Linked DNA regions of Homo sapiens. The protein of the gene in region 5 purifies or fractionates together with the protein of the main gene of each other region. This does not show direct contact. Each region holds a gene or a part of one and is shown on either strand. Other genes may lie near its edges. The genes, in order: MZB1, HK3, DUSP22, ERGIC2, FUNDC2, ANKRD13C and ANXA8.

The links.
Region 1: the proteins of FUNDC2 (region 5) and MZB1 purify together in Homo sapiens (affinity purification with mass spectrometry; one large-scale study listed by BioGRID and IntAct). This does not show direct contact.
Region 2: the proteins of FUNDC2 (region 5) and HK3 purify together in Homo sapiens (affinity purification with mass spectrometry; one large-scale study listed by BioGRID and IntAct). This does not show direct contact.
Region 3: the proteins of FUNDC2 (region 5) and DUSP22 purify together in Homo sapiens (co-immunoprecipitation; one large-scale study listed by IntAct). This does not show direct contact.
Region 4: the proteins of FUNDC2 (region 5) and ERGIC2 purify together in Homo sapiens (affinity purification with mass spectrometry; one large-scale study listed by BioGRID and IntAct). This does not show direct contact.
Region 6: the proteins of FUNDC2 (region 5) and ANKRD13C purify together in Homo sapiens (affinity purification with mass spectrometry; one large-scale study listed by BioGRID and IntAct). This does not show direct contact.
Region 7: the proteins of FUNDC2 (region 5) and ANXA8 purify together in Homo sapiens (affinity purification with mass spectrometry; one large-scale study listed by BioGRID and IntAct). This does not show direct contact.

What each region holds. Positions count from the first base shown.
Region 1 is NC_000005.10:139,387,114-139,391,048, forward strand, and holds MZB1 (marginal zone B- and B1-cell-specific protein precursor), read right to left. Parts: upstream 2,801-3,935; 5' UTR 2,744-2,800; coding exon 2,567-2,743; intron 2,308-2,566; exon of another isoform or gene 2,214-2,307; intron 1,555-2,213; exon of another isoform or gene 1,473-1,554; coding exon 1,348-1,472; intron 1,019-1,347; coding exon 908-1,018; intron 809-907; coding exon 652-808; 3' UTR 354-651; downstream 1-353. UniProt on the Homo sapiens protein: Associates with immunoglobulin M (IgM) heavy and light chains and promotes IgM assembly and secretion. May exert its effect by acting as a molecular chaperone or as an oxidoreductase as it displays a low level of oxidoreductase activity.
Region 2 is NC_000005.10:176,892,847-176,896,346, forward strand, and holds part of HK3 (hexokinase-3), read right to left. Parts: intron 3,340-3,500; 5' UTR 3,314-3,339; coding exon 3,218-3,313; intron 1-3,217. UniProt on the Homo sapiens protein: Catalyzes the phosphorylation of hexose, such as D-glucose and D-fructose, to hexose 6-phosphate (D-glucose 6-phosphate and D-fructose 6-phosphate, respectively).
Region 3 is NC_000006.12:309,487-312,986, reverse strand, and holds part of DUSP22 (dual specificity protein phosphatase 22), read right to left. Parts: intron 1,108-3,500; coding exon 1,025-1,107; intron 1-1,024. UniProt on the Homo sapiens protein: Dual specificity phosphatase; can dephosphorylate both phosphotyrosine and phosphoserine or phosphothreonine residues. Activates the JNK signaling pathway.
Region 4 is NC_000012.12:29,343,173-29,346,672, forward strand, and holds part of ERGIC2 (endoplasmic reticulum-Golgi intermediate compartment protein 2), read right to left. Parts: intron 2,369-3,500; coding exon 2,271-2,368; intron 111-2,270; coding exon 1-110. UniProt on the Homo sapiens protein: Possible role in transport between endoplasmic reticulum and Golgi.
Region 5 is NC_000023.11:155,033,344-155,036,843, reverse strand, and holds part of FUNDC2 (FUN14 domain-containing protein 2), read right to left. Parts: intron 3,442-3,500; coding exon 3,291-3,441; intron 1-3,290. UniProt on the Homo sapiens protein: Binds directly and specifically 1,2-Diacyl-sn-glycero-3-phospho-(1'-myo-inositol-3',4',5'-bisphosphate) (PIP3) leading to the recruitment of PIP3 to mitochondria and may play a role in the regulation of the platelet activation via AKT/GSK3B/cGMP signaling pathways.
Region 6 is NC_000001.11:70,351,923-70,356,208, forward strand, and holds the start of ANKRD13C (ankyrin repeat domain-containing protein 13C), read right to left. Parts: upstream 2,801-4,286; 5' UTR 2,487-2,800; coding exon 2,057-2,486; intron 1-2,056. UniProt on the Homo sapiens protein: Acts as a molecular chaperone for G protein-coupled receptors, regulating their biogenesis and exit from the ER.
Region 7 is NC_000010.11:47,481,316-47,485,472, forward strand, and holds the start of ANXA8 (annexin A8), read right to left. Parts: upstream 2,801-4,157; 5' UTR 2,706-2,800; coding exon of another isoform or gene 2,619-2,705; coding exon 2,598-2,618; intron 1-2,597. UniProt on the Homo sapiens protein: This protein is an anticoagulant protein that acts as an indirect inhibitor of the thromboplastin-specific complex, which is involved in the blood coagulation cascade.

The DNA.
Region 1 (3,935 bases), on a different chromosome or scaffold from region 5:
CACGCATTCGGTCACAGCCATCTTCTGTGCTGTTGTCGAGTGAGAGAATAGAAAAAGCATTTTGAAGGCCGGGCGCGGTGGCTCATGCCTGTAATCTCAGCACTTTGGGAAGCCAAGGCGAGCGGATCACCTGAGGTCAGGAGTTCAAGACCAGCCTGGCCAACATGGTGAAATCCCGTCTCTACTAAAAATACAAAAATTAGCCGGGCATGATGGTGGGTGCCTGTAATCCCAGCTACTCAGGAGGCTGAGGTGGGAGAATCGCCTGAACCTGGGAGGTGGAGGTTGCATCGAGCCAAGAACACTGCACTCCAGCCTGGGTGACAGAGTGAGACTGTCTCAAAAAAAAAAAATTGATTTTGAGAGTTTTTTTTTTTTTTTCACAAGGGACATCAGCAGAAACACCAATGTCTGCACTCCCAGCCCCACAAGCACCTTTTGCAGAGAAAAGAAGTGAGGTCACTGGGTTTTATTTGAGTCCAGAGGGGAAGGCGTTGACTCCCACCCAGGCCCGAGTGCCCTGAGGCTGGAGGAGGGAGGCAGGATGGCAGCACAGAGCAAGGGCTTCCTGCCCTCCTGGCTGCCTGCAGACGGGAGTGGAGACCGTCAGAGCAAGCCCCAGCTTCTTTCAGAGGAGGGTAGAGTCCAGGACTAGAGCTCTTCTCTTGTGGCTGACACCTTCTCTGAGCAGGCCCCCTGGGGTCCCCCACATAGCAATGCCTCCAGAGCCCCTCGGCCTTGTTGGTGGGCTTCATAGATCTGGTCTTCTCCAAACTCCCCCAAGTAGTGCAAACATGTCCTGGAGAGCCTAGGGGAGCCCAGCAGGAGCCTCAGATGCTGCCCAGCCCACAGTGGGGCAAACCAAGGCTCCAGGAGCTTCATCCTATCCCCAAGCCCCGGGCATCACCTGGTAGGCCAGGGGCCCCCTGTGACCATCACGCTGATGCTTGGCTCTGGCCCCTCGCTAAGTCCTGGGCCTGTGAGACGTTTCACTTGGTCCACTTCTCGAACTCCGTAGCTGGTGGCAGTGGAGAGGAGAGGAGTACAGTTTTGGCAGGAGCCCAGCCAGGGAGAGACCCATCTCCACAGCAAGCTGGACATGCTGGGCATTTGTGGAATTCAGAGAGGGAAAGCCCCTGGCCCAAGGTCACAAGGTGACCTTGTCCACTGGCCCTCTGCTCTCCCACTTGCTCTCAGCTCCAGAGCCCAGACTTCATCCCAGCCAGCCCCTCCCTTGGACCAGAGTCCTAGAGGAGTGTGTGTGTTGTGTGAGCGGCTGAGTGGGAATCTCCACCCACCAGGCCTGCCCTTGGAGGAGGGAGGTGGGGGGCAGGATTGGCAACTCACTCCTGCCAGTTCCGGGAGCAGCTCCGGTCCAGGACATCCGTGTAGACCAACTCGCTCAGCTCCCGCCGCCCCCCAGAGTTTGAGGTATGAAGTTTGGTCTCTGCCTTTGCCAGATTTTGCCACATCTGGAACAAGGAGGGACTGGGAGGCAGGGCCTCAGGACTGCTGCTCAGTTAGGGGGAGGTGGGGAGGATAGGAGCAGAGTCTCTGGGGAAAATAAAGTGGCAAGAGAGCCGTTTGAGCAGGAAGCACCTGTGAGGCTGTTGCATGGCCCCTCCCCCAGCCCCCAAAGCTCTCTGGGATGGGGATGGGGGATGGGAAAGAAATGCTGAAGTGGTAGGTGAGGCCTGGGCACTGGGGTCCCTCGTCCAGGGCACACCTGCCCAGTGGCAAGTGTCATTTTATTTTTATTTATTTATTTATTTAGAGAGAGTCTCACGCCGTTCGTCGCCCAGGCTGGAGTGCAGTGGTACGATCTCAGCTCACTGCAGCCTCCACCTCCCAGGTTCAAGTGATTCTTCTCCCTCAGCCTCCCAGGTAGCTGGGACTACAGGTATGTGCCACCACACCCGGCTAAAATTTTGTATTTTCAGTAGTGACGGGGTTTCACCATGTTGGCCAGGCTGGTCTCGAACTCCTGAGTTCAGGCGATCGGCCCCGCTCAGCCTCCCAAAGTGCTGGGATTACAGGCGTGAGCCACCGCGCCCGGCCGGCACGTGCCATTTTAAACCACAAGAGCAAGGTAAGAAAAACTGGAGCCCAATATTCAATCACACAAGTACTCCCAGGCCCCCACCTCACAGAGACACTGGCACGCAGGCATGCTCAGCAGGTGTGTGTGTGAAGCCAGACACACGCATACTCACGTGCAGGCGCTCACACGTGTGCACTTGCACCATGTACACATAGCCAAAGCCGCCCCGTCAGGGTTGGGGAGGGAGTCCGGACTCAAGGATGGGCCTGGAAAGGGAGAAGTCTAAGGACAAGTGAGTGATTCCCTGGGGTCTCAAAATACTGAGGAGGTCTCCCAGATTGTCTGCTGTTAGGCAGGCAGATGGGTAAACTGAGGCATGGAATATATGAAAGGCTGCATCTGTGGCTTGATGCCCAGTGGTAGGGATTGGGGATCAAAGGCCGGTGGTGGAATGTGAGGTGGGTGGAGGGGTCTGGCTTGAGAAGGGGTGTGAGCAGGGCAGGGTGACAGTGGTGAAGGACTCACCTGGTAAGCCACAGCTCTGCAGGCATCACAGCGCAGGTGAGCGGGCATGTGGGCTGAGTACATCTCCTCATCATCCAGTTGTGGGGCTGTGGCTGTGAGTGGCGCCCTGTCCCCGAGGCCCCCTGGGATGGCCCAGGCTCCCAGCAGCAGCAGCAGCAGTGGCAGTGACAGCCTCATGGCCCCAGGAGCCAGTTCAGCAAGTGTAGTCTGTGGTTGAGGTGCAGATGTGTGTGTGCTTGTGTGGTGTGGGGACCGCCACAGAACACCTGGCCTAGACCAATGGGGAACTGACACCTCACCCCTCCCATCCTCCTCCCACTCCCTCCTCCAGGGCCCCGAAGATGCCACGTGGGCATTGTCCTCTAGCTGGACCCTGGCTCCAGCCATCTCAGCTCCATTTCACAGATAGGGAGCACTGAGGCAAGGAGAGGGGCTGGGCCTAGGCAGGAACACATAGGGGCCGATACTGCCCACATCCTGTGATCTGGCCAAGTGGCAGGCACTGTGCTGAGTGCCTTGTGGGAAGAGTTGGTTGGCTGCCGTCATCTTTTTTTGTTTCATTGACCTTTCTGAGAAATGAGACTGTCATGTTTATTCTGCCTCTTCCGACACAAAGGCTCAGAGAGAGGTGACAAATCCAAGGCCACATAGCTAGAGGGGCCATGCTGAGAAACCCAAGCCTGATTGACCCCAAGGCTCCCTGGCCACTCAACCACCAGAAGGAATGAGGTGTGGCTGCCAGCCTCCTGGGAGGCAAGTTCAGGGAGACAGGGATGCTACAGTGTTTCCAAGACACACATGGTCTCCTTCCCTAGCCCTGAGGTCCCCTCCACCCAGGCCATACCCAGGCGTGGAAGGGCACTGTGGAGGGTGTTGAGAGGCTGTGGCAGGAAATCAGGCACCTCACACCAGTTATTTCAGCCATGATGGCTCCATGGTCAGTGATTTATTACACACCAGGATGAGGTAAAGACACCTGGGGTGGCCCCAGGGCCCTCCATGCCATCGGAGCTGGCATCTCCAGCTAGAAAATGGCCAGTTGTTCTGATTCGTAGCTCTCCTAGTCAGCTTCCAGTCCAGGGCAGAGGGCAGGGACTGCTAGGGACCTGGGCCCCCTGACAGGCCTGGAACAACGAAGGCATCCATCCCCATCCCTGCCACTGCTTCTCATGGAAACTGTCCTTCCCAAACTCATCACATCACACACCAGGCTGGCAAGGGCCAGCCATTTCCGGTTCAGAACTATATACAGACCCCCACGCACACCACCTCCCACCTCATGCAGACCCCCCTCATCTCCCTCAGAGGCTCCTGGAATCTCAGGGCAACTGAAGTGCAGGCTCTGGGCCCTGTCCCTTGCTGTGACTGG
Region 2 (3,500 bases), on a different chromosome or scaffold from region 5:
AAACAGATCCCTAAGAAGGCGAATCATCCTAACTGGGGTGCCAGATGTCCACTTACACGTTTGCCTTACAGCACATGCTTCCAGCAGCCATGCCTGCTAGGGGTGCCCATGCCCACTCTATCTCACCCTGACCAGGCCTATCTGGTGACAAGGGAAAGAGAAGCTGAAGCCAAGCTGCAGACCCTGTTTGCTCACAGGCTGCACATCCAGGAACTCAGGCAGTGGGCAGCAAAGTCAAAGAGCTGCAGGACAGGCGGGGTCTCAGCCTTGCCCCTCTGAGCCCCAGCTGCCCAAGTGTTAGAAATATGGAAACGGAGACTCCGAGAGGGCAAGTCATCTGCAGGGCCAAGCAGCTGTGAAGGGGCAGGGGAGAATTTGAACCCATATCTACCTGAATGCAGAGATGTTTCTATGTCAATGTGAAGCTTTATAAAACCTAGAAAGTTCCCTTGAAAAGAACTCAAGGCTGATGAAAGTTGCTGGAAAGAAACCCCAGATGATCCGGCTTGAGAAAACTTACAGCTGAGTCCTCGCACTCCCTTTTTCTGGCTCTGCAGTCCTGGGAAAGTCACACCTCTCTCTGAGCCTCAGTCACCTCTTCGTGCAAAACTGAGAAAATAATAGTACTTGGAAGTCCCCCAATGCCAGGGACTATGTCTTGCTCAAGGCTACATCTGAGGGCCACGAGGAGCACCAGCTGGAAGCAGGATTTGTTGATTGGATGGTTGTGGTGGCATAAGAATTAAAGGCTGTAATGTATGTGGAAGTGCCAAGTGCCATTGGGATGGGAGGGGCGTTTTAGTATTGCTTCATGAAAACAGTAGAGTCACGGAGAAGTCAATGGCTTGGGCAAATTGTTTTTCTTCCTTTTCCTCTTGGGCATATTGAGATGTTCGGGAGGAGAGACTAGAAGACAGCAGAACTGCAAGAAAGACAGAAGGACTTCCCTGGCAGATCCTGGTGAGGCACACACAAGCCAGGAGAAGCTATCGGAGCCACCCCTGACACCCCAGGAAGAGCAGGGAGAGACCTCAGACAGAAGAGCAAGGAGAAAGGCATTAGAGAGCATGTGAAGTCCAATGTGGTTTCAACACTGGCTCTTGTCACCAACTTGCTGTGTTGCTGGCCTGGGCCCATCACCTCACCTCTCTGAGCAAGCAACCCCTCTATCTAGCAGGAACAATAGTACCTACTTCTCAGAGATGCCATGAGGACTGAGACGACAGCAAACCTGAAGTGGAGGAACAGTGTCACACATAGGAGATGCTCAGTGGAACACGGATTCCCTGTCCTCAGAGCACAAAGCACACCCAGCCTGGAGAGCCTGACTCCATACCCTCTCTGATGACAAAGAGAAGCCTGGTGGAAGGGGTGGGGAAGGGCCTCTGAGATGGTACTGGGAACTGGCCACACGTGGTTAACTAACTTTTTTCAACCTAAGGTCATGGCAAGGGGAGCACAGGGTAAGGCCTGTGGTGCTGAGTTGGGGGTCCAGGACCATGGGAAATTTGGTGTCCCTGTGAAGTCCCCCAAAGCCGAAAGGGATTCTTTCAACCGCAGGTGTATGTGATGGAGCCAGCAGGGCAGATGTGGGCCTGCACAGGAGTGTCATCAGGGAGGGGCAAGAAGCGAGGGAGGAGATGACAGCAGGCCCTAGAGCCAGTCCTGGCTGGGCAGGCACTGTGGCCCAGCCACCGCTGTCACTCCTGAGGCACGGCTGTGGGTCAGGCACAGAAGAACTGTCTGCAGCAGGGTCTGGGGTACAGGTTGGACAAGGGGGAAGTGGGAGCATGAAATGCAGCGAGGGGTAATGCCTCCACAATCTGGGCAACAAGCCTAGTCAAGTGGATGTCAGAATATGCCAGAAAACTAAAGAAACTGCAGAGAATGACTCAAGTACCCTTTAGTGGGCACCTCCTCTATGCAAGTCCTTTTTTTTTTTTTTTTTTTGACAGAGTCTCGCTCTGTCACCCAGGCTGGAGTGCAGTGGTACGATCTTGGCTCACTGCAAGCTCTGCCTCCCGGGTTCACACCATTCTCCTGCCTCGGCCTCCCGAGTGGCTGGGACTACAGGCGCCTGCCACCATGCCCAGCTAATTTTTTGTATTTTTTAGTACAGACAGGGTTTCACCGTGTTAGCCAGGATGGTCTTGATCTCCTGACCTTGTGGTCCGCTCACCTCGGCCTCCCAAAGTGCTGGGATTACAGGCCTGAGCCACTGCGCCCGGACTTTTTTTTTTTTTTTTTTTGAGATGGAGTTTTGCTCTTGTTGCCCAGGCTGGAGTGCACTGCCACAATTTTGGCTCACTGCAACCTCTGCCTCCCGGGTTCGAGCGATTCTCCTGCCTCAGCCTCCCAAGTAGCTGGGATTACAGGCATGTGCCACCATGCCGGCTAATTTTGTATTTTTAGTAGAGACGGGGTTTCACCATGTTGACCAGACTGGTCTTGAACTCTTGACCTCAGGTGATCCACCTGCCTCGGCCTCCCAAAGTGCTGGGATTACAGGCGTGAGCCACCGCGCCCGGCCATAGGCAAGTCCTTTATCTCCATTAGCCTTCAGGGGGTGGGGAGGATTAGACTTTATTTTCCTCCATTTTACTGATGAGGAAACAGAGACTAAGAGATATGAAATGGCTTACACAAGAGTTTCCTGCTCAAGGGTGTGGTATGAGACAGCTTCTAAATCTTGGTCAAGATGACAGAAAAAGAAGAAACTCACTTCTGAGCAAGCCTCAGGCATGAGTTTGGCACTAAAATCGTCTGTGTGCCTGATTGTAGCGGCTACATTGAGGGAGACATGCAGGAGGAACTGGAGAGGCGGGAAAGGAAAGGTCTCAAGAACACAACTTTTGACCAGATAACCCTGAGAAAGTCCACTCTAGACTGTGTCACCCACTTGGGGCGGGAGCGGCACCTGTGTGGCAAGGTGGCAAAAATGACATGTTTGGAGCTGAAACACCTCAGCTCAAGCTCCTGTCATGTCTTAAACTCAAGTCATAACACTTCTCTATATCCCTCTTCATCACCTGTAAGATGATCAGCCCAACCTTGCAGTTGTTTGGAGCATGAAAGGAGATCGTTACCAGCTCAGATATGAAAAGCTCAGTGGAAAGGGGCTGCATGGGTGAGAGCCCAGGGCCCCATGGCAGCTTCAGTCACGCTGCTCTTGAAGGCCTTAGACAAGCATGAAACAGGAACCCAGTGCTGAACTTACCAGCTCTGAGCTGTCTGAGGGCCCGGGCAAGCCCTCCTCAGAGCAACTCAGGGTTTCTTCCCCCTGCCGCAACCCTGAAGACCCAATGGAGTCCATGAGCTTCCACAGTGGAAGGTGGCCACCTATGGGAGAAAAGGGACAACCTGGGTCAACCATTTACTCTATAGGCCCTAGGAGTCTGTAACCCAGACCAACTTCCTTCCTTCTGAAGGGGACCAGGAAGGAAGCTGGGAGCAGAATTCAGAACCTCCAACCATCAAAGATCCTGTAGCAGTCAACCAGA
Region 3 (3,500 bases), on a different chromosome or scaffold from region 5:
TAGCAAAAAAAAAAAAAAAATTATGAGCTAAACAATACAAGGAAGTAGGAGCTCGGAGATCTGGAGAAATTAATTGAGGTTTGTTCACCACCTATGATTCTCTGGTACTACAATGTTTAGTAGAATCATTTATTATTCTACATTCTCATCAATTTTAGCTTACTTTATACTAACTAAAATCTGGCAGCCCTAATGGCTAAAGAAAATAGATACATTTGAAATAAAAAACATTACCTACTCTTGCCTAATATAAATTTAAATGAAAACAGCCTGAACCAGGATTCTTTCTTTCAGAACAAGCCACCCCTCCCTTTCCAACACCCCACCCTAAAATAGAAAAACACATACACATCACAACCACACAGCATTATTTTCTAAAAGGAGGTAACTCGGGCTCTGTCAAGGCTAATAAACATAAATAGATTTTACCTCTAGCCAACAGCTCAAACCGTCCATTAGGGTAAATTTAAAGATGTTTTTGGAATCAGTGCACAAGCAGACACACCCTGTTTACCCCGAAAACCTAAAACACAACAGCTTCTACACCGAGAGTCTCCACATTAGAGCGGCCCTGGGAACCCTCCAGGACGATTCACCTTCTGTTTTCTGTGACCCCTGAATGCCAGTGGTAGCTATTTGAGTTTAAATGGGACAAAATCAGGAAATGAGCAGGCTGAAGTTTTTTGGATTTTAAAACCAGAGATAATTCTGAAAGGAATGAAAATGGGGTTTAAATGTCCTTAAGGTCCAGAGGGAAATGCAGCCTCAGCTTATTCCTAGGCATTTAGCCACGAAAGCCAAAGTGGCAATGCAGCAGGAGTGTGATCAGAAAAAGCACACACCCTCGCGCCACGCTACAGACAGCGTGTTAACATCAACACGGCCTGAACACAATGGGAATGCCGCCAGAGATCACAGGAGTACGTTCGCATTGGAGAGAACCTGGTTGCCTTCATTAACGTCGTAGGTACTCCCACGGAATACAAATGAGGACACCCACACACGCCCCACGGTGCTCTCTTACCTCCAACATAGGCCTGGCACTATCGTGGACAGACAGAATATGTGTCACCTTGTTCTTGCTCAATTGTTCCGCGTCTCTGGCATCTGTCAGAGAAGAAAGGGGATGGACATTTTGATATCTTTGCAAGTTAATTACTCCTAAAGTCTAGCCAGAAAAAAAAAAAAACCCACAAAATGACTTGCATATTTCTTTCCTGAAACTTCATAACTGACCATACATGTAGGAAACTTAGGGCTACTGCTTTCATATATTTTGCCTAACTTTATTTCTTTTGTTTTTTTTTGAGACGGAGTCTCACTCTGTCGCCCAGGCTGGAGTGCAGTGGCGCCATCTCGGCTCACTGCAAGCTCCGCCTCCCGGGTTCACACAATTCTCCTGCCTCAGCTTCCCGAGTAGCTGGGACTACAGGCGCCCGCCACCACGCCCGGCTAATTTTTTGTATTTTTAGGAGAGACGGGGTTTCACCGTGTTAGCCAGGATGGTCTCGATCTCCTGACCTCGTGAGCCGCCCGCCTCGGCCTCCCAAAGTGCTGGGATTACAGGCGTGAGCCACCGCGCCCGGCCTTGCCTAACTTTATTTCTGATTGTCTCATCTTTTGACCCAGAGTGAGAAAGAAAAAAACTTTCTATGAGGAAGAAGAGTCCCTTTAAATGATCAGGTGCAGAAAGGCCTCTGTAATATAACAGCAGTCTCCTCTCCCTCCCCCTTGAGCTAAATGGTTACCTTGAAGCCATCTGCTATGTGGTCCCTAGACTGATGCCAAGTAGACATAAAATGCCATACATCATAGTTCAATATCGTATAGCCAGGCACTAACCAATGTTATTTCTATAAACCAATGAGAATTCCTGCTGAACAATTTTTTGTAATTGCCACTCTCCTGATTCGTCTTTTTTTCTTTAAAAACTTGAGCCCCTATTTTACTCTCCGGGGCACTCCCCAAGGCAACCTGAAAGTGTGTTTCAGGCTACAGTCCTCAAGCTTGGCCCAAATAAACCCTCTGTATTAATTTTGCCTCAGCTTCTTCCTTTTAGGCAACAAAAGTGTTAATCTAGAAATTGAAATGCACTTAGATTAATAAACATTGTAATCATGATGGATTACATGGATTACATCATCAAGAAGGTAAATTTACGAGACCATTTTGTAGTTAGCATTTGTAAGAGATGACCTTAGGTCAGTCTTTCTGCATGAGACACATAATATTAGGGATATTTAAAATATTTTTTTAATTCAATGGCCTCTTAATGATGAGAATTCTTAAAAAGCTAAATACAAAACCATTAACTCTAGAAGACAAAGGAAACTGCCCATTACTTCTTTCCCCAGACGTCAAAAGCAGGGACAGTTCTGGATTCAGACAGGACTGTGGTTTACATCATCTATATTCACTTTAAAGCACAATTAAAAAATGAAACTTTTTCTGGAAATTCCAAACAGAACTGTCTATCAGCTATCAGTTGGCTATTAAATTATCTCCATATGAAACTAAGAAGATAACAAAATTATATTCCCTTCCAATGTCCCTACCTGCAAAAAGAAGACCAAATGGTGTGATCCCCTGAAGTGGAACCCTTCTACTAATCTACAAAACAGGGGGCCAGCAGGAAATGAGGAGGTCCACTTCCCTACACCCCCATCCCAGCCTGGCTGAACTTTCCTAAATGATACAGGAGAAATGGATCAGAAGGCAAATGTTTAGGCCGGGCATGGTGACTGACACCTGTAATCCCGGAACTTTGGGAGGCCGCGACGGGCCAATCACCTGAGGTCAGGAGTGTGAGACCAGCCTGGTCACCACGGCGAAACCACATCTCTACTAAAATTACAAAAATTAGCTGGGCGTGGTGGTGTGCACCTGTAAACCCCACTACTCAGGAGGCTGAGGTAGGAGAATCGCTTGAACCCAGGAGGCGGAGGTTGCAGTGAGCCGAGATCGCCCCACTGAACTCCAGCCTGGGCAACAGAGTGAGAGTCTATCTCAAGCAAAACAAAACAAAACCAAACAACAACAACAACAAAGAAAGGCAAATGTTTAATTATCATGGTTCTGGAGACTATTTCATGGCATGGGAAAATGCTCAGGGTATAATGTAAAGCAGGTACCAAACCATAAATATGACACAAACCCAACGTATAAAAATGCAGAGACAAACACATGGCAGGGAGGATGGCGGGACTGGTACAAAGACAGCCCCAGCTCAGAGACGGAATTACAAGGGTTTTCTTCCTTCTTTATAGTATGTGTGTGTGTGTGTGTGTGTGTGTGTGTGTGTGTGTGTTCTACATGAGTGGCTCTGAAGTTTAACACCCTAGGAACTGCCAAGAGGCTAGTTAGAAAGATCTACCCTGGGGCTGAGGAATCTCCATCTCTAACAAGCCTTGATGATGAAGCAGAAGTCAAGAAACATTGTTCTAAACATTCAGCAACGTCAGGAAAAAAAATTTAGGTGATATTAAAATACCACTTTTAAG
Region 4 (3,500 bases), on a different chromosome or scaffold from region 5:
CAGAATGGCATGTGCTCCTCAGTAACTGTCACCATAAGAGAACTGAGATCATATTTCATAAATATCCCAGAGACTCCATGGCTGCCTGCAGCATGGTTAATGATACGTTCCTAAAAGGGAGGCAAAAGGAAGGGGAGAAATAGGAGGAAGAGAGAAACAGAATTCATGTCATCTGGTTACTTACATACATTCAATATTAAGCCCTGAAGCCCTACTGTAAAAGAAGGACATCCACATTTCCTTATGAACTGTCCTACTAGACTAAGCTCTTCAGAGACAAATTATTTTGTATTCTTTGTGTGGTTAGCTTTTGAAACTATCAAAAGAGCAGAATCATTCTTTTTTTCTCAAAAAGGTCACCTTAGATACAAGTTTTCTACTGAGCTCAAGAGCTTACAAATATGTATGGCATGTTCCTCATGCTATAACTAAACTGCAAGCTTTAGGAATACAAATAATGAGGTTAACTACTACCAAGGGAAATTAAAACAGTTTTACGTAGGGCATTACAAAACTCTTTCCCTATTACTAGCACAATACAGCCTTATAAGCCAACTGATCAAGTTTCCAATAAAGTGACTACATCTTAAAGCTCTAAAATGCTCAATATCATGCTGAGTTATAAATATATTGTCACTACCTATAAGGGTAGAAACTGTTTTAGGGATCAGGGCATATACATAATGAAAGACTAATAATGATTCACTTTGGGTTCCAGGACTAATGAATGTCAGCCCTCTCCCTCCCACCCCCTATCCTGCATTTTACCAACCCCAGTTACTCCATTCTTTTTTAAGTTAAAAAACTATTTTAGTCACCCTATCAGTATAAACACATCCTTCAACAGTCAAATGCCCTGGGATTCTATTACATATGTATTTTTGGCTTTGTTATTTTAAAAATATACCCTGGAGATATTTTCCTATCAGTATATAGAAATCCTTCTCATTTGATTTTTAACAATTGCATCTTCCTCCAGTGTGTGTAGATGTACCATCTGGGTTGTTTCTAATCTTCTACTATTACAGATAACAATGCAACGAATAGCCTGAAACACACATTTTTATATTTTTGCCCACCGTATCTTTGGAATAGCTTTCTCGAAGTGCAATTGCTGAGTCAAAGGATAAATGCATAGGTCCTTTTGCAGATACTGCTAAACTACCTTCCTCAAAGATTATGCCACTTTGCATCCCCATAGCACTGCATGTTTGCCTATTTTCCCCAAAGTCTTCTCAACTGTATGTATTGCCTTGAGGTGTTTGCCAATCTTACAGGTGAGAAATGGAATCTCCCTACTCCTTAAAGAAATGTTGAAAAGCACAATATGTTCTGGTATAAACTTTACCTAGTTTCTTTGTGTGAGTGTATATACACACATACCTATACATATATATGCAGTTATATGAACTTGTACTTTCTCCCAAGCCAAGTGAAAAGCTATAGACACATGACACTTCACCCCTAAAAACTCCAATACCTAATCTCATAAGAACAAAAAAAAAAATTCCACAATTATTGAGGGCATGGTCATCATGAGTTATAAGGCTAGTAAAAGAAAACACTATATAAAGGAAAGCAAAATTTTTAAAGCACTTAAATTTTGCCTTAGAATTCTTCTGGATACAAGTGTTTGAATTCACCATTCAAACACAAAAATAAGAAAACATGACCCCAAAGTAGATAAGAAATCTATTAAACTGTCCAATTCCAAAACTTTGCTCATCACTGTCAGTATTTACTTATATGGCCATACCACCCTGAGGTAGTGGAATGTTCTTCATCACAATCAGATGAATACAAAGCATTAATTTAGGAAGGCAAACCCTCTAAATTTGCTATCTAATCCATGATAACCATGTATGCCCAGAGAAGGTAGTACATTTATTAATAAATAAGTAACAGAATTCAAAGAATCTGCTGCCAGATCAAGAACTGCTTATATCAATTTATGAGAAAACATTTATAAAATTAAGACATTAAGAATAAAATAATTAAGGCCATCACAATTTAACAATTTTAAGTCTTAATGCAATAGAAAACCTTTCAGATTTTTTAAATATCTACTTTTATTGCTTTAGAATATACTAATATTCATTTCTGACATATTTCTGATTTAAAATAAAATGTTAATTCATTTCAAAACTTCCACAGATTTTTAAATGAGGGAAGACACCAAGTAAAACACCACCTTATTTTGTAGCCAGGAAACTTTAAAATGCTTTTTTAAAAAAATCACCAAATTATTTTACCGGTTGGATTCAACTTACCCTTTCTGTCACAGAAAACTGATGGGTGTCTGCTGATATTTTATATGTATGTAGTTTTGTTGGCACAACTGTAATAAAATATTGGAACATCTGGTTGTCTAGAATACAAAAAAAACTTTTTATCAATTCAGTAGCAACAAAACTACTGCCAAATATATTCTTCTATTAAACACATTTAACCTGAAATTTAGCTGGATGTGGTGGCTCACACCTGTAATCTCAGCACTTTGGGAGGCTGACGAAGGAGGACTGCTTGAGTGTGGGAGTTCAAGAACAGTCTCGAACTTGAGTCTGGGAGTTCGCGACCAGTCTGGTCAAGAGAGCCAGACCCTGTCTCTACAAAAAATTTAAAAATTAACTGGGCATGGTGGTATGCACCTGTGGGTCCCAGCTGTTCAGGAGGCTGAGGCAGGAGGATCATATGAGCCCAGGAAGTCAAGGCTGCAGTGAGCCATGATTGTGCTACTGCACTCCAGCCTGGGCAACAGAGCAAGAACCTGTCTCAAACAAATAAAAAATAAAAACATTTAATCTGAAATGTAATGTTACATACAACTTAATGTCTAACAAAAAAAATTTTTAAAAGAACCAATGAAAGCAACATATTTATACTCGGTAAAACAAGTTCTCAGCAAGCATAAGATGGGCAACACAGATGTTTAAAAAAATGAATTGGTGACTTAGTTAAATATTCCTTAAAATCGTTAACATCCTTTTATCAATTATGGAAAAGTAGCATTTTTCTTTTTCCTTTTTTTTTTTTTGAGATAGGGTCTCACTCCATCGCCCAGGCTGGAGTGCAGTGGCGCAATCACGGCTCACTGCAGCCTTGACTTCCTGGGCTCCAGCAATCCTCCCGCCTCAGCCTCCTGCGTAGCTGGGACTACAATGCACGCCACCAAGCCCAACTAAATTTTTTTCATTTTTAGTAGAGACAGGGTTTTGCCATGTCGCCCAGGCTGGTCTCAAACTCCTGGGCTCAAGTGATCCTCCTGCCTCAGTCTCCCAAAGCGCTGGGATTATAGGTGTGAGCCACTGCACCCAGCCAGCATTTCTTTATAGTACAGAAACTAAGAATAAAATAAAATTATAAGAGAATAACCACCACAAGACATATTTTCAGTTTCTACTAATATCTTAAGATATACACTAAACCAAAATCAAATTAGCTAGCCTTTGAATAAATACAAGGAACTGATATTACAGTAGGAAGAAAACTAAAGAAACTAC
Region 5 (3,500 bases):
CAGCATGATAATGGCACCTAGATCAATTTGGCAGTACAAAGAGCTCAAAAACATATAGTCAACTGATTTTCAACATAGGTGTAAAGACAATTCAGTGGAGAAAAAGACAGTCTTTTTTTTACAAATGTGGGGACAACTAGATACCCATACGCAAAAAAAACTTGGATTCCTACCTTATACTATATACAAAAAGTAAATCAAAATGGATCACAGAACTAAATATAAAATCCGAACCTATATACAATCTAGAAAAAGCGAGAGAAAATCTTGGTGACCCTGGATTAGGCAAATATTCTCAGACATGACACCAAAAGCTGGAGCTACAAAAGAGCTGCACTTCAAGATTAAGAACTTCTGCTCTTTGAAAGGTACAGTTCAGATAATGAAAAGCTACAGAGAAGTAATATATTTGCAAATCACATATCTAAGACTTCTATCCAGAATATTTAAAGAACTCTCACGATTCAGCAGTGAAAGAAAACCAACAACCCAATAAAAATATGTGGAAAAAGATTTGAACAAATAAGTCATCAAAGATATATGAATGGCAAAAAATAAGCCCGTGAAAATGCTCAACATCATTAGTCATTAGAGAAACGCAAATTCAAACCACAATGAGATACAACTTCATACCCACTAAGATGTTCGTAATCAAAAAGATAATACCAAGTGTTAGTAAGGATGCAGAGGAACTGGAACCCTCACACATTGCTGGTGGAGATGTAAGATGGTACAGGCACTTTAAAAACTGGCAGGTACTTGTAAATTTAGAACATTCACTTACTACGTGACTCAGCCATACTATTCCTAGATATTTACCCAAAAGAAATGAAAGCATATGTTCATACAAAGACTTGTACACTTGTATACAAACTTGAAGTTTTATCTGTAACAGCTAAAAAGTGAAAAAAAAACTCAAATGTCCATCAAAGGTGGATGGAGAAACAGATTGTGGTACATCCATACAATGGAGTACTACTTAGCAATAAAAAGGAATGAACTGTTGATAAACAGAAAAGCACAGATTATCTCAAAATTATTATGGTGAAGGCTGATGCAGGAGAACTGCTTGAACCCAGGAGGCGGTGAGCCAAGATCGTGCCACTGCACTCCAGTCTGGGCAACAGAGCAAGACTCCGTCTCAAAACAAAAAAATATATTATTATGGTGAATAAGAGAAGCCAGACAAAAAAGAATATATACTATGTAATTCCACTTCTAAAAAGAATCTAGAAAACATAATCTATAGTAATAGAAAGCAGATCAGTGGCGGGAGGATGGCATGAAGGAAAGAGCGTGGAATTACAAAGAGGTACAAAGCAGCTTTTGAAGTGATAGGTATGTTCATTATCTTGACTGTGGTGATGGTTTTATGGGCATGTACATATGTAAAAATGTATCAAATTTTATACTTTAAATATGTGCAACTTATAATATACCTATTTATTAAATTTAAAAACTAAGAGATAAAGAAAATAGCCAAGATGTTCCTAAAGAACAAGATAGCAGACACACACATATGCATGCGCACACACACTCACATAAAGCAGCGGGGAAAGGGATAGCTTTCACAATAAATTAAGTTGGGACAAATGGGTATTCCACATGGGGAAGAAAAGAAGGAATCTACCACATACTGAGCACAATAACAATTCCAGGTGGATAATAAATCTAAATGTGAAAGGTCAAATAATAAAAGTTCTGAAACATGGGGTAGGCAAAGATTACTTAAATAAGCCACAAAAATCACTAACCATTAAGGTTAAGATTGATAAAATTGACTATATTAAAAATAAGATCTTCAGTTCATCAAAAGATACCATAAAACGAAAAGATAACCACAGAATGAGTGAAAATATCTATAATACACACAACTAACAAAGGACTGAGAATATTCAGAATATATAAAGAACTCTTACAGCTTAACAAGGGAAAGAATGACAACTTCAGAGGAAAAAAACTAGAGTGGAACTGAAAGAGGAGATCCAAATGGTCAACAAACATACGTAAAAGTCGATCAATGTCACTCCTACTCAGGGAAATGTAAATGAAGCCACCATGAAATACTACTACCTAACTACCAGACTGGTAAAATTTTTATAGTCTGGATTTAACTTGATTACCTCGCTAAGGAAAAATTAACTAATTTTTTAAAAATTTAATAGCCTGGCAAAATCAAGTGCCACCATGTAGAACAACAGGTTCATTTGGTCCTTGCTGGGACTGTAAACTGTTAAAAACAGTTTTGGAAGGTGGTTTGACATTATTTAGTGAAGCTGAAGATACCTATACCCATTACCTAGCAATTTCTAGGTACAGACCCTACAGAAATGTATGCACATATACACTGGGAAATCTAATACTCATATAAGCATAGTATTAGCCAAAAATGGAAACAACTCCAATATCAGTCATCAACTGGATATACTGTGGTATATTCACATAATGGAACTCAAAATACAAGTGAAAGTGAAGAAACTACAACTATACACAATGTAGTTGAATATATGAAACATCAGGTTGAGCGAAAAAAGCAAGACTCAAAAGAATACATACTGATTGCATTTACTTTAAGGTGGAAAGCAGGTAAACCACAGTATGTTATTTAGTGACATAACTGGTGTTAAAACTACAAAGAAAAGCAATGAAATAACTGCTTAATAACCTCTCGAGTTTCTAGGGCGCTAGCCACGTTTTTTTTAACCTTAGCAGTTGTTACATAGGTGTTCACTCCAAGTATTTGCTAAAATGTACACCTGTTAAATGTGCTGTTCTATATTTGCTATATGGTGCTATAAAATTTTTCAAATGTAAAGAGTCTATGAGATTAATGGATTCAATATTCACCTATGAAATTTGCTATTACTTTTTGAATTTATTACAAATGAAACCATAAGCTGTGTCACATTAAGTTATCATCTGACATAGCTAATAAGTAGTTAGCTCCTTATTCTACCAGTTACCAGCTATGTGGCCTTGGGCAAACTAACCTTTCTGAGCCTCAGTTTCTATAAAATGAGGATAGAAAATAACAGTACTAATTCCAGAGTTGTGAGAAGGAAATGAGATATCTATGTAAATACTTCAAACAGAACCTGGCATATAGGAAACAATCATTATGTGTAACCATTAAATGGTACTTTAAGATGATGTTTAGATACATGCTCCACATTAAGTGACCAATTTCACAGAAGCCAATGTGTTTTCACTGGTTAAAGGAGATGATGGTACCTATAACTGCAATACTAAATCATGCACAAAAGACAGTGGACATCTTTCACATCACTTACCATCCAGTGACACCTCCAATGAACAGCTGGGTTGCCACGCTATACTTTTCTGCTGAAGGTCCAGATTCCTGCCCGAACAGCTTACGCCACCATGGCTGCTTCTTAGCAAATTCCGCAAGGTCCAGTGACTCAAAATTTCCCTCAAAGTTTCCTACAAGAAGTAATACGTTAAATAAGAAAATATTTACTTTTATACCTAACTAGATTGAG
Region 6 (4,286 bases), on a different chromosome or scaffold from region 5:
TGTACACATTGCAGGGGGGAAAGCAATTATATTTACCCCAGGTATGTGAACCACCGGTTACATTAATCAGAAACATCAATGATATAAGGTCAGCTAAACACAATAAAAACCTTCCTTTAAAAAAGTGAATTTCAAGGCCAGGCGCGGTGGCTCAGGCCTGTAATCCCAGCACTCTGGGAGGCCGAGGCGGGCAGATCACGAGGTCAGGAGATGGAGACCATCCCGGCTCACACAGTGAAACCCCGTCTCTACTAAAATTACAAAAAAATTAGCCTGGCGCGGTGGTGGGCGCCTGTACTACCAGCTACTCAGGAGGCTGAGGCAGGAGAATGGCGTGAACCCGGGAGGCGGAGCTTGCAGTGAGCGGAGATTGCACCACTGCACTCCAGCCTGGGCGACAGAGCAAGACTCCGTCTCAAAAAAAAAAAAAAAAAAAAAAAAGTTAATTTCAGTGGGCTAAGGACAAGAGTTTAAGAGTATACAGGATTCTAATTACTTTGAACAGAATTTGAACTTAAACAAATGTACTCCTAAATGTTGGGTTGAAGAAGACATGGAAGCCCAACAATCCTGTAATTCAATAGCTTCAGTGATATTCATCCATCTCTTCTTTCAAAGGGAGTTAACTCTCAAACCTTTTATCTGTTTCAGGGATATTTCAAGGTAATGTAACTATGGCTACTATGTAAACCAAATTTGAAAAACTTCCTCATAATAGACTAATAAACTGAAGCTACAACCCATCTCCCACTAACAACTGTTTTCCAAAGGGCTAGCATAGAATTACCATCATCAACAAACAACATTATCCTTGTACTATAATAGTAAAATGATTAAGTAATTTAAATGTAGGAAAGAAAAACTGGCTGCAACTTTAACATACTTTTTTGGGGATTTATGATAAATGATAGGTGGTGATTTTATTACAATTACAACATTGTAAATTCTGAAAACAAATGCAGTTGTTAGATAATTATACAGCCAAGAGAAATCTTACTCGTTTTTTTTATCTGAATTTTTGTCCTAAAAAGCCTACGATCCAATGGAATTAAGTGAGCTTATTTCACAGGCAAATATTTCATTGATACGTATATCATTTTGAGCACAAAGTTGGTTCAGTGTGTTCTAACTGAATGTATACAATTTTCATATTAATAGCAGAGCGATCAACAATATTTGCCAACTACCCAGTTTAAAACGGCTATTAAATGTTAAAATGTCAGTGTTCACATTAGTCTTCAATAATAAATTTACTGTTGCTTAAAAGTCAACTCAGTCACATTATTTTTTAGAATTAAACAAAAAATTCAGCTGACAAGGCAAAAAGAAATGGTCAATATTGACTAAGATAAAATTACCATAAAAATCATAATACTATTTTTAGTCACAGTCATCAAGATGAGACATTACTATTAGCAATTATCTACTTAAAACAAGCAAAAAATCAAATCTCTACTCAAACAAAAATCGGCTGTTGAGAAGTCACTTTAACTGTTCTACGTATCAAATACCAACAAATTTCTACTGTGTGGCTTTCAGAAATCTAACATTCTAAGTTTACTGAAAGCAGACAAAAAAGAAACAACCTGGTGGCAGGCAAAATCACAACCAGTTGCAGTCAAGATGGGATCTGTATGTGAGCAATGAAGGGAGGAGGGCAATTTATGCGTTCAAAATTTAAAATGCCAAGGTAGGGGGAAGAGAGAGAAATAAAGATATATAGCTCCATAAACAAAGGGAGAAAACCATGTTGGGTGGGAGGCAACCTAAAATTTCTGACAGTCCAGAATCAGCAAATCGAAGGCCTGTCTCAAACAAAACAGCTTCTCACGACAAACTTTGAAGTGGGCAAGGAGGATACATTCCTTTGCACCCACAAGAACCAACCCCTTGACCACTGGCACGCTATTACTGAGTCGATCATGATTTACCGAACGGCCCGGATGATGGGCAAAAAGAAGAGTCTGCTGGAGGGGGCCTAGGATTCCAGAAGCCTGGGGAGGCACACCCTAGGCTCGGGGAAGGAGAGAGGTGGAGAGGGGCTAGCACTCCTCACCGTGATTATCTTTCTGCCCGATATTGTGCGTGCGGATGAGAGAGGAGAGTCTCCTCACATCCCCCTTGAAGACGCACTCGTGCACCGGGTAGTGTGCGGGGCAACTGCCTCCATCCGCGACGACAGCAACGGGGTTGGTGCCGGCCAGAAGGGCCGGGGACTGGGAGTTGGCAGTCACGGAGGAATTGTGCAGCGGCAGAGCCGGGGCGCCGGGGGGATTGGAGGAGGCCGGAGCTGCCTTCAGCTGTAGCCGGTGGTGATGGTTACTGAAGATCTTATGACAAGCTTTGCCGCCCTTGCCAATCCTGCTTCTGGTAAAGGTACCGCCGAGGGCAGCCGCCGCTTCCTCATCCCCGGGCTCCAGCAGGTCCCCTTCTTCTTTGCTGGGCTTGTGGTCCCTCCGCAGTGAGCGGATCTTCTCCCCGGTCATCGCCGCCGCCAGGGGCAAGGGGGGGAATCGGGAGGCTCACCGCTGGCGACGGAGCTGGCGCTGCGGCGGCACAAGGCGATTAGAGCGGTGGCCAAGAGCCTCCAGCGCAGCATGAACTCCCACTGAGCCCCCGAGCCTGGGACAAACGCATCTCCCGGGGAAGAGCCGGCTCTCGCCTAGGCACGAAGGGACGCGCGCTCGCTGGGGGAAGCTAGAACTCAGGTGCCCACGACACCAGGATCTCAGTCTCGCCGTCGCAGCCGCCGTCGCTGCCTTACACCGAAAAACAGGGCACGGCCATCTTCCTCTTGCTCCTCTCGCGAGAGCTCCCCCAGGAGTGAAGAGAGAGAAAACACCGCGATAAGTGAGCCACCCGCTCCCTCCCTCGCACCTTCTATTCCCAGAATCACTAGGCGCCGGCGCCTCCGAGGCAGTGTGTTTCCGCCCAGAGCTGGAGTCTCCCAGCTGCCAGCCGACCCCGAACCCGCACTCCCGCCAACCGCGCTTTTTGTGGGCGGTCGGAAACCACAGCCTCCGTTGGATATGTTCGGTGCATGTTATAAACAACCACTTAAACCCTCCGGATCTGAGCCTCCCGCAGAGGAATGCAGAATGACGCCACGGCACGCAGGATGTGATGTCACCGAGATGCAGAGGATACTCAGTCAACCAACATTTACTGAGCATCTACTTCGTGCCGTATGTACGAAGCTAGCAAATATGTACAGCACCAGTACTGATTGCAGGGAGCACTGTAGAAGAGGAATGAAGGCCAAACAATTAAAAGCGGAGGCGGGGAGGTGGGTTGCACACAAAAAAGGGAGGGACGAATTTTAGTGTTGAGTTGTCAGGAAAGTCATAGAAGAGTTTAGGTGCTGACTTTGGAAAATGATGGGCTGTCCAGCAATCGGAAAGAGGGGAGGCCACTCAAATATTTATTAGATGAATGAATTTCGGGCAGATGTCAGAGTTAACATATATGAGGGTGGGGACACTCAAGGAGGGCAAAGAATCGTGTAACTGAAATATAATTGTATTAGTTCATGGCCAACCTCAACCTAGTGTCAAACTCTGAAGAAACGTAAATCTGCCAACCATAAAACTTTAACAAAGTAACTAAAGCTGGCCACTGAGGACGTAAGGAGGGGGCTTAGCAAAACATCCTAAAGATCTTCACCCATTTAACTCTCCAAAGTCCCCCTATGTTCTGAGAGCAAATACTTCAGATCTCTCTCTCTTTTTTTTGTTTTTTTGTTTTTTTGACAGAGTCTCTGTAGTCCAGGCTAGAGTGCAGTGGTGCAATCTCGGCTCACTGCGACCTCCACCTCCCAGGTCCAAGCGATTCTCCTGCCTCAGCCTCCAGAGTAGCTGGGATTATAGGCCTGCGCCACCACACCAAGCTAATTGTTGTATTTTTAGTAGAGACGGGGTTTCACCGTGTTGGCCAGGCTGGTCTTGAACCCCTGACCTCAGTGATCCGCCAGCCTCAGCCTCCCAAAGTGCTGGGATTACAGGCATGAGCCACTGCGCCCGGCCAGATCTCTTCTTTCTTAAAGTTTATACTACTGCTAACTCATCTCCGCAAACAAACAACTCGATGGGCCTCTCTTAATCCTCCCCAGTCACTCAACTTTTCACCTCCAATTTTCTTCTCAGTCTGTTCAGATAAATCTGTTTCTTCCTCTTCTTTCTTTTTCGGTGGAGTGGAGAGTTCCGTTTATGTTAAAACATTACCCAATCAACAGTTCAAAGCATCCTCTTGAGACAGCAGTAGAGACTGAAAAAATACATGCAATAATG
Region 7 (4,157 bases), on a different chromosome or scaffold from region 5:
CTTTACAGAAAGGGAGCTGGACTCCCTTACACAGCTAGTAAGTGATGCTGTTGGGACTCCCCAGCCTGACTCAGAAGCTGAGCTCTATCTACCTCCCCTGCCCTACTGATGACTCCACCTTTCCCAGACAATGAGTGTTCCTGGAACGTTCCACTGAAGGAAGCTTCACCCACAGGAACGCAGGTCATCTGGGAATGTGGGAGGCATCTCAGCTCTCAGTGCCTGCCGGCTTCCCTCTGCCCCAGCACTCGGGGGCTGTGGTGCACCAGCGAGTGGCCAGGCTGTGTAACCGCATCCCTGAGGAGCATGCAGTCCCGCAGGGGTGCGGTAGGTCTCAGGTGCAGCATTTGTAAGCAGCTCCCTGGCTGGTTCTGATTTTGCTGCATTGAGAAGCCTCTGTCTCACTTCCCACTCTAAGGTTTTAGAAAATAAGTGTTCTGGGAATCGGAGCCCTGGCTATCAGTGTGGAGTCCTGGAGCTCCAGACCTCCTGCTGAGAAGGAAGGGTCAGCCTCAGGCTCCTGCAGGGTCTTGCCCAGGGCCGTGCTAGTCCAGACAGGCACATTTTCACTGAAAAGGTGACTCAGACCAGCCTGTGACTACATCTATTAATATAACTTGTTCTGTGACAGGCACAGGGGAGCTGCCACGCCTTGGCCTTCCCCTGCTACGTGGCTGCCCAGAGGCCTGGGAGATGGGTTTGTCTCTATGAGAGACACAGAGGAAAAGGCAACACCAAAAAGAGAGGTGCAGATGGACCCTGCCTGCAGACAGATCTCTCTCCAGTGGCTCCCTCATCTCCTCCCATCGCGTTCCTGGCCCAGCTTTGTGCCTAGAGGACACTGGGTCTTCGCTAGCAGCTCAGCTGTTGCAGGTGGGGTCTACCTGTGAACTTGCTACCCCTAGCCAGCTCTCACATGGGGTATGGACGACCAGGGTATGGTTTTGGCCCTGGAGTCAGGCTGTTCAGATTCTCACCTAGACTCTCACACTTACTAGTGAGTTCGGGCACCTGCCTAGCCTACTTGTGCCTCAGTTTCCTCATCTGTGGATAAGGATACTGGTGTCTACTTCATAGACTCCTTGTGAGGTTCAAGGGAGATATTGAATGTGAGGTGCTTAGAGAAGGGTCCGGCCACAGAGTAGGGACTCAGTGAGTGTCACAGTGATCCTGTCAATTTGGCAGGTCCCTACATGGACAGCCCTTTGTCCTGCTGCACTGGGTGCAAGGCCCAGTGCCAGACTGCCTTGGCCAGCAACTGACTTTGGAAACCACCCAGCACTGGGCTCTCCCTGCCATGTCCACCTCCTCAAAGGCAGGTTCCCAGCAGTCTGGTTGAAGCTGCAGGCCTCCATGGCCCCTTGTCCTGGAAGAAGGCTGCTTCCCTGGGGGCCAGGACAGCTGCCCCACCTCAGCCTGGCTTCCTCTTTGTCCCACCTGTCCAGAACCTAGCATGTCTGACCCTGAGGACACTTGCTTGGGTTGCGACATCTATGATCCAGAGACTCCCTGAAGCTGGACAAGCCTGGGTATCCCACAAAAGCTCACAGAGAACCTGGGGCTGGGCAGAGAGACCCAACTGCTCTCTGACTGGAGCCTGCTGGCCATTGGACCCTAGCAAGTCACTCAGTGTCTCTGAGCCTTCATTTCATCATCTGCAAAACAGAAAGTGCAGCCCTGACATCCTGAGGCTGCCTGGGAGGAAAGGAAAAGGGTGTGCAGAGCCGGCAGCCGGGAGATGTCACCTCTGTCCCCTTCTGGATATTCAACTCCTTAGCACAGCGATGGCCTCAGGCTCAACCATAGATGGAAAGCTCCCGAGAACCCATCAGTTCTGCTGGGGATGGGCTGCCCTGAGCCCCGGGTTCCTCCAGGCTCTAGCAGGCCAGGTCCTCCTGCTTCCCCTCTTCCCTCTCCAGTCTTGACAAATGAACATCATTGATCCCTGAGGTGAAGGCATTGATGGGTCCCCAACAGCAGGTTCAGGTTACTCTCATGCTCAAAGCCCTTCAGTGCCTTCCCACTTCTCTTAAGGTAAAGCCTAACTCCTCAGCCTGCCAGGCAAGGCCTTTCAGGACCTGGCCCTGCCTGCTTCCCCAGGTCCATCTCCTCCGGTACCAGGACCCTTGAGCTGTGCTGAGCAGCTTCCCTCGAAGCCAAGCTCCCTGCCCTCTGACCCTCTGCACACAGTTCCCTCTGCCAGGAGCAGTATGCCTGATTCTCCCCAAATGCACACGTGTGTGCACCCCATACACATTTACACACAAGGCTCAACCATGATACCCCCTCCTTTGAGTGGCCCCACCCCTGCAAGGGTCCCTCCCCTGGACTCTTCTCAAACCTCAGCTTCCCCCTTGCATTTCTAGATTTCTTCATCAGCCTGTCTCCCGGCCCAGGTCCCATCCCTGCCGTGGGCACTCTAGGCCTGGGACTGTTTCTTCTCGGCCCCTTCCCACCCTCCATGCTTGGCCCAGGAGGCAGCCAAATGTAGACTGAGCCACTCCCAGCCAAGGGCGACTTTACATTTCTCAGGACTCCCTGGTGACCAGCACCCAACACCATGCAGGAACCCAAATCTCCTGCCAGCTCCCACTTACCCAGGATTTCCACCAGGCCATCTCTTTCACCTCGGGGGCACCTTTCCCAGGGAGATGAAGAGACACAGGTTGGCCTCTGCTGGGACTCCACACGTCTGGCTCCTGCAGCTGAGGAGTGAGCAGGCCGCTCACTTGGGTGTGGGGGTGCAAGCCCGCCCAGGGCAGCGCCACACCTGCCTGCCGTCCCCTCGCCCCCGGGCTCTGCCTGGCTTTGGGCATCTCCTGTGGCTCCCAGGCCCCACCCAGACACTGCCCAGGCCTGCTCTGGGGAATTACACAACTCACTGGCAGATATTTGGGCTGTGGCTGTTACGCATACTGGAAATTCTTAGCTCCAGCCTGCGAAAGCCCCACTCAGTAAACACAGCTCCATGTTGATTAGGCTGGTCTCAAACTCCCGACCTCAGGTGATCTGCCCACCTTGGCCTACCAAAGTGCTGGGATTACAGGCATGAGCCACCGCACCCAGCCCATTTTCATCACTCCTAATAGCCATGGAGTATGCCATTTAATCAACTGCATATGCAATATTATTTTTTTTTTCCGGGGGCAAGGGGCTCATATTCACCACAGATGGGAGGCCAGTTGGTGAGAAGGTGGCAGGCGGCACAGCCACCTTATACAGCATGCCATACTGGTCCACTGTCAGACCGGTGATGGCCTCAGCTCCATCACCCCCCAGGCTGACTCTGGCTCCTGCCTGGCTCTGCCCGGCCACCACAACCCCTCGGGACCATTCAGAGGCATCACTGGAGGATGTGTGGTTAGTGGAGCAGCTGGTCATGGGGAGGTCTCGTTTCTTTGGTGGAAGGCATTCCTGGTTCCTCTCATGAACAGGTTTCATATTGCTTTGTGGTGTTCCTGGAGCCTGGAAGGAGTTGGCTTGCTCCCTGGGGCATCAGGAGGGGCTTCTCTGTAGCTTCTCTGAACCCCTCTCTGCTTCTGGCTGGGGCACCTACATCTGAGCTTCCAGTGGTGCTTCTGAGCAGCTGTAGTAAGCGTCCTCCCGGCTGGCTCGGGAGCCAGCCCATTTCACCACGCTTCCCGGGATCCACCCGCTCATCCTGGAGCCGCTGCAAACCTGGCCGCCGCCATCCCCAGCCCCGGAGCTGCCCCATACCCCTGTATATGCAATATTTGTTAACCATTCCCTTTTGGTGCCCATCTAGGTACAGGTATCATTTTTGGAGCTAAAGTATCTATAATACACTGGAAGTAACAGATGTCACCTCCATATTGTACGCCAAACCTAATAAGCAGAGCAAAACTTTTCATCCAAGCGATTTGGTTAACATTTTAGGATGTTTCTAATCTCTCAGTAATACAAATATGCTACAATAGATCTGTGTGTTTATCCTTTGGGCACCTGTGTGTGCCTGTGCATACCTGGAGAATAAAGTCCTGTGAGAGGAACTGCCATCCAAAGAGGGTGTTTCAGTCTGTACTGCCACCAACAATGTGCTTGTGCTTCTGAGCTTGCGTTTGGGTCAGGAGAATTTGAAAGTCATCAGGAACCAAACCAGGATATAAGGTTCAGCTGTAGCTGGAAAGTGGCAAGCG